Linked DNA regions of Homo sapiens. The protein of the gene in region 1 purifies or fractionates together with the protein of each later gene. This does not show direct contact. Each region holds a gene or a part of one and is shown in the gene's direction. Other genes may lie near its edges.

Evidence for each region. Proteins that work in one complex are often made in the same cells at the same time.
Region 2: the proteins of TCHH (region 1) and CCDC127 purify together in Homo sapiens (co-immunoprecipitation; one large-scale study listed by IntAct). This does not show direct contact.

What each region holds. Positions count from the first base shown.
Region 1 is NC_000001.11:152,104,362-152,109,666, reverse strand, and holds the end of TCHH (trichohyalin), read left to right. Parts: coding exon 1-2,282; 3' UTR 2,283-3,350; downstream 3,351-5,305. UniProt on the Homo sapiens protein: Intermediate filament-associated protein that associates in regular arrays with keratin intermediate filaments (KIF) of the inner root sheath cells of the hair follicle and the granular layer of the epidermis.
Region 2 is NC_000005.10:204,654-209,148, reverse strand, and holds part of CCDC127 (coiled-coil domain-containing protein 127), read left to right. Parts: intron 1-3,190; coding exon 3,191-3,852; 3' UTR 3,853-4,495.

The sequences.
Region 1 (5,305 bases):
TGAGAGAGGAACAGGAGAAAAGGCGCCAGGAGCGGGAGAGGCAGTATCGGGAGGAGGAAGAGCTTCAGCGCCAGAAAAGGAAGCAGCGATACCGGGATGAGGATCAGCGCAGTGATCTGAAATGGCAGTGGGAACCAGAAAAAGAAAATGCAGTTCGTGATAACAAGGTTTACTGCAAAGGCAGAGAGAATGAACAGTTCCGGCAGTTGGAAGATTCCCAGCTGCGCGACAGACAATCCCAGCAAGATCTGCAGCACCTGCTGGGTGAACAGCAAGAGCGAGATCGTGAGCAAGAGAGGAGGCGCTGGCAGCAGCGCGACAGGCATTTCCCAGAGGAAGAACAGCTGGAGCGAGAAGAGCAAAAGGAAGCCAAAAGGCGCGACAGGAAGTCCCAAGAGGAAAAGCAGTTGCTGAGAGAGGAAAGAGAAGAGAAGAGACGCCGTCAAGAGACAGACAGAAAATTCCGCGAGGAGGAACAGCTGCTCCAGGAAAGGGAGGAACAGCCGCTGCGCCGCCAAGAGCGTGACAGAAAATTCCGCGAAGAGGAACTGCGCCATCAGGAACAAGGGAGAAAATTCCTCGAGGAGGAACAGCGGCTGCGCCGCCAGGAACGGGAGAGAAAATTCCTTAAGGAGGAACAGCAGCTGCGCTGCCAGGAGCGCGAGCAACAGCTGCGTCAGGACCGCGACAGAAAATTCCGCGAGGAGGAACAGCAGCTGAGCCGCCAAGAGCGTGACAGAAAATTCCGTGAAGAGGAACAGCAGGTGCGCCGCCAGGAACGAGAGAGAAAATTCCTGGAGGAGGAACAGCAGCTGCGCCAGGAGCGTCACAGAAAATTCCGCGAAGAGGAACAGCTGCTCCAGGAAAGGGAAGAACAGCAGCTGCACCGCCAAGAGCGTGACAGAAAATTCCTGGAGGAGGAACAACAGCTGCGCCGCCAAGAGCGTGACAGAAAATTCCGCGAACAGGAACTGCGCAGTCAGGAACCAGAGAGAAAATTCCTCGAGGAGGAACAGCAGCTGCACCGCCAGCAACGGCAGAGAAAATTCCTCCAGGAGGAACAGCAGCTGCGCCGCCAGGAGCGCGGGCAACAGCGGCGTCAGGACCGTGACAGAAAATTCCGCGAGGAGGAACAGCTGCGCCAGGAGAGGGAGGAACAGCAGCTGAGCCGCCAAGAGCGTGACAGAAAATTCCGTTTAGAGGAACAGAAAGTGCGCCGCCAGGAACAAGAGAGAAAATTCATGGAGGACGAACAGCAGCTGCGCCGCCAGGAGGGCCAACAACAGCTGCGCCAGGAGCGCGACAGAAAATTCCGCGAAGACGAACAGCTGCTCCAGGAAAGGGAAGAACAGCAGCTGCACCGCCAAGAGCGTGACAGAAAATTCCTCGAGGAGGAACCGCAGCTGCGCCGCCAGGAGCGCGAACAACAGCTGCGTCACGACCGCGACAGAAAATTCCGTGAAGAGGAACAGCTGCTCCAGGAAGGGGAGGAACAGCAGCTGCGCCGCCAAGAGCGTGACAGAAAATTCCGCGAAGAGGAACAGCAGCTCCGCCGTCAGGAACGAGAGAGAAAATTCCTCCAGGAGGAACAGCAGCTGCGCCGCCAGGAACTGGAGAGAAAATTCCGTGAGGAGGAACAGCTGCGCCAAGAAACGGAGCAAGAGCAGCTGCGCCGCCAAGAACGCTACAGAAAAATCCTAGAGGAAGAGCAGCTCCGTCCGGAAAGGGAAGAACAGCAGCTGCGCCGCCAGGAGCGCGACAGAAAATTCCGCGAGGAGGAACAGCTCCGCCAGGAGAGGGAGGAACAGCAGCTGCGCAGCCAAGAGTCTGACAGAAAATTCCGCGAGGAGGAACAGCTACGCCAGGAGAGGGAAGAACAGCAGCTGCGCCCCCAACAGCGTGACGGAAAGTATCGCTGGGAAGAAGAGCAGCTCCAACTTGAGGAACAAGAGCAGAGGCTGCGGCAGGAGCGAGACCGGCAGTACCGGGCGGAGGAGCAGTTTGCCACGCAGGAGAAGAGTCGTCGTGAGGAACAAGAACTATGGCAAGAAGAGGAGCAGAAACGTCGCCAGGAACGGGAAAGGAAATTACGGGAAGAACACATCCGCCGCCAGCAGAAGGAGGAACAGAGGCACCGCCAAGTCGGGGAGATAAAATCCCAAGAAGGGAAGGGCCATGGGCGGCTTCTGGAGCCCGGCACTCATCAGTTTGCCAGTGTCCCAGTGCGCTCCAGCCCTCTCTATGAGTACATCCAAGAGCAGAGATCTCAATACCGCCCTTAAGTGATGTTGCCAATATCTTGACACCTGCCAAAGCTTCGAGCACGGGAAAATGAGAAACACTGGGTACCAAGTGATAACTCAGATGTTTCTGGTTGTGGGAAAACTCTCTGATATTAGAATGTCTTTTCTTCCAAAATCTTAAACTACGCTCATTTTACGCACTTTGTACTTCTGCTTTTTATTCTTCCTCAAGTAGTTCTTTACTGCAAGATGTCTTTCTTTTGCTCTTTGATGCAGATGTGGTGTGCATTTAAAAAAAATATAAATCATTTAATTTGTTTAAGAAATTTTGTTTGAGGAACATGTTCATTTATTGCTTTCAGAAGTAACAAGAGTAATAGGATGATTTGAGATTCTAAACAATGGGTCGGTTTGTTTAATGACTGACCCATCTTGTGGAAAGTGCAGATACTTTTAATGTTCAAGTTGCTATTTCTTCTTGAACCTAAATTGATCATTGCCTCCAAACAGCATTTCATCTTTTGTGGCATAGTTAGCACAAATTCCAGGTAACTAAATTTTTATAACCCTTGAATAGTGCAGGGGGAGTGACCTCTGCATAAAAACTTCCTGTAAAATCAGCCCATTACTGGAAGAAATATCTGTTAAGAATAGGTTTAGCTTTGAAGATTTAGAATTTAAATTAGATTTTTTTTAAACTCAACTCCACTTAAACACATAATCTCATGAAGAAATAATGAGGTGTTTCTCAACTTCAGAGTTCAAATTTTAAAACTGTGTCTGTTGTAGTCTATAGTGTTCATTCTACTTCCCCAAGTTTTGATGAGTTTCAGAATATTATGAACCTTTGTTAATTTTAGCTTGTTAGAAGGAAGCTGCTCAGAATCCCATAAACATCTGTCTTACTCTAGGGCCAATAAGAGATCACATAGAGCATGTTGGGGGTGTAAAAGGGAAAAATGTGTGAACATAGGGGCAAATTTCTAGAGGCCCTTTGACAAGACCCATTTGCCCACAATCATTTGAGGCCTATTGATAATACCTTAGATATATTCTTGTTGAAATAATTGGACTGTGAAAAATTAATAATAAATGTTTGGCAAGTAACTACTTTTGTCTGTTTTAACTCTGCGTCAATCATAACAAGATCTCATTGTCTGGAAACTAACACAAGTTCCCAATCACATAAGGGCATTTTGTTACTTATCTATGTCCAAATACGAAAAAAGAGGGGAGAGAATTCTTTGTTTTTCCCCAACCTTTTTTTTTTTTTTTTTTTTTTTTTTTTTTGCAGTTAGGCTGAACTCTATTTCCATCCCCACACTGAGATTGCCTTCCAGAGTGTTTTTGTTCTTGACCCCACAGCTTTCTATGCCATTTCTTGCAGCGACTCACTGGTCATGACAAATACTGGTGCTCCCAATATTTGTTAATATTTCCTTTAGAGAATGCAGCAGCTTCTTAGTCTCTGATGTCTGATGAGCCAATGATAGAAAATGGCCTGAAACTTCAGATCAGCACTATAAAAACTGTAGATGTCCTGTTAATTTAAGCAACATAATCCATGAGGTGACTGAGTCAGAAGGTACTTAATAGTAATCAGGCTGAAGTATCAAATTATTATCTTGTTAGATAATAATTTATTAGATAATAACAAACACGCCTGTGCTGCCTGCTGGATTCTTATTTTTAGTATTCATAGTTTACTAACTAGAAATAAGCCCAAGAAGGCCCTGATCAAAACAATGTCATTTCTAAGATCATGATGAGAAGATGCCCTAAAGTTATAGTCACTCAACATTTTGATCAGTGGTGGAGACAAGCTAGGCTTATGGCTCCTGAGTATCATTCTGATAGAGTAAGATGGCATTTTCTTCAAGAAGCACAGCTTCTCTCTCTCTCACTTTAACAAATGGCAGATGCCCACCAAAGACATAACCTGGGAATCCCCTGACATTGTCTTGGAATTTCATCTCTTTCAAATGATTTCTAACTGCAAAACTATTTTTCCCCTAAAGTATACTCTTTTTCTTACTTAAGCACCTTCAAAGAAATTCTGGAAGAGCTTCACTGACTTTCCTCAGGACCCTCTATGGGTACTCATTCAAGAGCCTCCTTATAAATGCCCAACCTCAGGATACCACTGAAATATACACTTCATCAGCTAAGCTACAGTTTAACAATGATAATTATGGTAAAAATAAGCAAAGCCCTGGGGACTTGTAGCACTTTACAAGAAGGTAAAGCCAATTTCCAAAGAAGAAAGTATTGTTTCATCACAGTTATAATAACATGTAGTTTAAAAAAAAATGTGTCAGCCAGCCCGTGCCCTCTAGCTGTTATTTTAGCATGCTGGCAGGAGAACATGCAGGCCAAGCCTCCTGCTCCACCTGAATGATACACATGCATTTGCAGAACCTGGAGGCTGTTGGGCAATTGCCTACTTAATTATAAACTGGGAACTCTATTAGCATCACTTAGGCTGCTGCTGGGGAACGCAATCAAGAGTTTAATATGCAGTGATAGAAAAGCTGGTCTCTATGTGTTGTGACCTCCCAACCCCCACAGAGGTTCACGTGTTGAAGTCTTAACCCTCAGTACCTCAGAATGTAATCATATTTGAAGATATGGTATTTATAGAGGTAATTAAATTAAAATGAGGTTATTAGTTTGGGCCCTAATCCAATATGACTGATGTCCTTATAAGAAGATGAAATTTGGACACAAACATGGACAGAGAGAAGATGATGTTAAGATACAGGGAGAAGATGGCCATCGACAAGCTAAGGATATAATCCTAGAACAGGTCCTTCCCTCATGGCCCTCTCAAGAAACCAGCTCAGGCAACACCTTGATCTTGGACTTCTAGATCCCAGAATTGTGAGAAAATAAATTTCTGTTGTTCAAGCCACCTAGTCTATGGTACCTTGCTATGACAGCCCTAGCAAACTAATACAATATGTATCAGTAAGATGGCATTATGTTGCTAGGTAAGCCTATCTGTATCATGATGATCATTATCCTTTGACATTGTGCAAGCAGGTTCTGGTTGCTCAAATATA
Region 2 (4,495 bases), on another chromosome or scaffold:
TGTGTTGTGGAATGATGTGTGTGGCCAGGCTGCGAAGGGTTGTTTCTGTGTTTGTGGGGGAGTCCTGATTCCGTCATTCCAGTTTTTCTTCGAGTTGTTCTGTTTTTCAGTTCCAGAATTTTCATTTGGTTCTTCTTTACGTCTTGTGTTTATTTTCTTAGGCTCTCTGTCATGGCAGCTGCTCTGAAGTCCTTGTCAGATGATACTGCCATCTCTCATCCAGGTCTTGGCATCTGTTGATCATCTTTGTTCATTTAGTGTGACCCGTCCTGGCCCTTGGTACTAGGAGTGATTTTCTGTTTGAACCTGCGCATTTGGGGCATTACGTGCTGAAACACTGGTTTTTATTTAAACCTTCGGTCTTAGCTGGCTTTCTTGAATGGCGCCCTGGCAGGGGAAGGGCCACGCAGCCTCCTTACTGCCAGGTGAGGATGGAAGTCCAGGCTCCCCACTCAGCCTCTGGCCCCCATGGGCCCCCGAGGAAAGGATGGGAGTTCCAGCCCCCCGGCCTCTACTGGTGCCCCCCGGCTGGGAAGGCCTCAGCACTGCTCCCCACATGGCTCCCCCCGACCCCACCCTGTGTTTGCTGCTGGGTGGGAGTGGGAGCCTCAGCTCCATCCAGCCTTTGCCCATGTGGGTGGAGGTGGGGCCGTAGTTTTTTCTGTGTTATTTGGCTGATGTAGAGTGATTACTGTCGGAACATTTTCTCTCTTGCCAGGCCTCTATCGTGGTCCTTTGGGCAGAGACAGCAGGCTTTGTTGGAGTTTCTTTTTTTGTCTGCACCCGTTGAGATTTCCAATTGACTGTGTCTTCAGCTCCAAGTATGGGATCTATGAGGCAAAATGAAAATCTAGAGGACTTGCCCCCGTGTTGTTCCTGGGGTCCCAAGGACCCAAGCCAGTCTGCCTTCTCTCCATCTTTCAGAGTCATCTTGTTTTACAGATGATGTCCAGGATTTTTAGTTTACTTAGAAGAAGAATAGGGAGGATGTCTACTCCGTCTTCCCAGAAGCAGGAGTCTCACCGGAAACTGAGGCTTTGAAAAGTTGCGTGTGCCCAAAGTCTGTCAGGTCAGACTCGGAATTCAGGTTTTCCTGACATCCAGCCTGTCCTGCCACACTTTCCTCTGCAAAGCTGCCTGTAGCCTCCCCTGCCTGGCTCCCTGTCCAGCCAAAAACTTACCAGTAACCACAGCCTGTATGGTGGGGTCTGACGTTTAACCGTGTGCGTCATTGTCTGTGTTAGTTTTCCAGTGGTTTGGTGTGTCAATGATGTGACTCGACTGAGATCGTCCCCAGATTGTATCAGGGAGCAGCTCCCTGTCTCCTCTTGATTCGGCGCCACCCCTCGCAGCCCCACCTCCACCCCTCCACACCTCCTGGATGCTCTTAAGTCACGTTAATTCCTTTGACTCCTCGTGGCTGCAGAACATATCCCGTGCTCCTTGTCCGGGTCTCCTGGGGGCCCCTCTCATTTGGCACCTGTGACTTTCCAGAGGCAGCTCCAGCTTGTCCTTGACATAAGCCCCGTCCCCAGGCACATCCGGCTCCTGGAAGCTCTCACTCTCCGATGCTCTCGCCTGCCTTGCTCGTTTAATTTCGGGTGACTTTTCCTTGCAGCTTCTGCTCAGCCTTCAGCCTTCTAGACTTTGTTCATTCACCTTTTTAGGAAGCCGTTCTTGACTTCACCAAAACCAGACGAGCCTTCCCTTCTCTCTCCTCACATACCTTTGCAAACCCCTCAGTGCTTATCAAGTGACGTTGTAACAGCTTCTTTCCTGGTCAGGCCCCTGCCTGTGAGCTCTCGTCAAAGGGAGGAGATAAAGGTGACGTGAGTTTGAGTTGTCATCTGAAGTAGGACTAGCAGCTATTTTTGGTTGAGGAAGGATGAGTTTGGTTTTGTGCTTACTCAGTGAAGTGTCAACAGCATATCCAAGGGGGACTGGCTTTCAGGCTAATGGAAATCTTGCTGTTATGGAATTGCTCCCACAAAGGTCATTCATGACCCGGGAGAAAAGCAAAGGTGACCATTAATGACCTGGAAGAAAAAGGTGACCATTAATGACCCGGGAGAAAATAATTGAATGTCAAGGACACCACCTGGGTTGGGGGAGGCAGCAGGAGGAGGAAGAGAACCATTAAAGTTGATAGAAACTCCAGTGGTTCTAGAAGGGGCTGCAGACGAGGGAGTCCCACAGTTAGTAGGGGAGGGGTTACAGGATAGAAGCACACGAGGGAACCCAGACTGCTGCTCTCAGTGGCTTTTGGGGCCTTGGGCTTTGAAAATTTGCCAAACAGTTCTGTTTTCCAGAAGACTCAACTCCGTGCTGCTTTTAGAATGTACAAGCAGAACACGTCGCTGTTTGGAAAACTAAGACTTAGCATGCAGTTGCTCCAACATGCATGAAATTATTGAGCAGCATCAGTTCGGAATGTGGATGGAACTGTTATCACACGGTCTTTTTTTATTGTTGAAACACATCCAACTCTTACTTGTGGGATGGACAAAGGGTTGGTGGCTCTATACGGAGCCAGGTGCCTGCTGGCCAGCAGGCTGTGTGAGTCATCCGGTCTTAGAGGCGCTGGATTTCTCTGCAGTGCAGGCCAGCCCTGCTGCTCCTTGGTGTAGGGGGCAGAGCCGGGCAGTGCCCCCTCCAGCCTCCCAGCAATCTTCGTCCCGTTTTCGTGAGATTCCAGCAGTCTCCAGTTTGAGGAAAGAGGCCCACTGTGTCTTGAGGCTGAACTTCTTAACCCACTTTATTTTTATGTGTCCTTATCAGAACATAAGCAGTGTCTCAAACTCAGGCCGTTTACTAGTCGCCACCGGGCAAAGCTAAATACAACTTTTATAAGAACCTGGCCAACGGTAGTTGAAGTCGACCCAAACATTTTAAACTTTGCCAATTGTACTAGAGCCGGAGCAGGCAAATGGTGGTAGATCTTCTTAGCAACAAACAGTTAGAAGACGGAAAGGGCTAGGGTTAGGGTCTTTTGGTCACCCAGCCCTTACCTGGTTTTCAGATAAGAACTTGGCCTGTTACACATTTTCACGTAGAAGTGATCTTCTTGGTACAGCCGAGGTCTTAAGCTTTTACTGAAACACTATCCTTAGCTGCCTTATGATTTAAGTGAGGATTATAGAACTTCAGCCCTAACTTTTTCATTATGTGTATTTTTCTTCATTCATGTCAGGTTGGATTTGGTCTAGGGAGTCCCAGAAAGAAGTAGAAAAAGAGAGAGAAGCCTACCGTCGGAGAACTGCTGCTTTTCAACAGGATCTGGAAGCCAAGTACCACGCCATGATCTCAGAAAATCGGCGTGCTGTCGCTCAGTTGTCCTTGGAACTCGAAAAGGAACAAAACAGAACTGCTAGTTACCGAGAAGCCCTTATCTCTCAGGGACGCAAGTTGGTAGAAGAAAAGAAGCTTCTGGAACAGGAACGGGCCCAGGTGATGCAAGAAAAAAGACAGGTGCAGCCTTTGAGAAGTGCGTATTTGAGCTGCCTGCAAAGGGAAGAAAACTGGCAAAGGAGAGCCAGGCTTTTGCTGAAAGAATTTGAAGCTGTTCTCACAGAAAGACAGAATATCTACTGCAGTCTGTTTCTTCCTCGCAGCAAGCGGCTGGAGATAGAGAAGAGCTTACTGGTGCGAGCGTCCGTCGACCCCGTCGCCGCTGACCTAGAGATGGCAGCCGGTCTCACCGACATATTTCAGCATGATACATACTGTGGTGATGTCTGGAACACCAACAAACGCCAGAATGGCAGACTCATGTGGCTCTATCTCAAATACTGGGAACTCGTTGTCGAACTGAAGAAGTTTAAGAGAGTAGAGGAAGCCATACTAGAAAAGTAAGACAAGAGTGAAATCAAACTGCTTTTAGTGACTCGAGGCCAGGCAGTCATGCGCCTTCTGGGTCTCCGGCGTCTTCCGTTCCCGTGCTGCCCGTGTCATGGCCACACCGTCACCCTTCAGCAGCGACCTCCACTCCCGCCACCGTCTGAGCAGAAGTGCACCGAAGCCTCAGAGACAGAGGGTCTCCTCCCGATGCTCTGCCGCTGTTGGGGATATGGTTTCTTGAAGCATTTTTAGGCTGCCAGTATTGTATTAAGCAGAACAGTATAACCTCGTATTTTAGCTCCAGGGTAAAAATGGTTTTTTAAAAAGTCAAATACAATACTGGTCCTTACCACAAGTAATTTTCTGTCTGTTTCATCACTCCCTAAATACTTTCTCCTCAAATTATTTTTCTCTGTCACCAGATTACATTAAGAATTTGTCAGATAATGTGTAGAACTGCATAACAGGTAATAGGAAGTAGTAATATTATATTATCAAGGGTTTATATTTTAAAGATCTCTCTCACTCCATAAAGGGGAAATACCAAGTGTTTCTTGTATCCAGTTGTTACTTAATGTGTGTTTGTTGTATGCAGTTGTTACCTAATGTGTGTTTGTTGTATGCAGTTGTTACCTAATGTGTGTGTGTTGTATGCAGT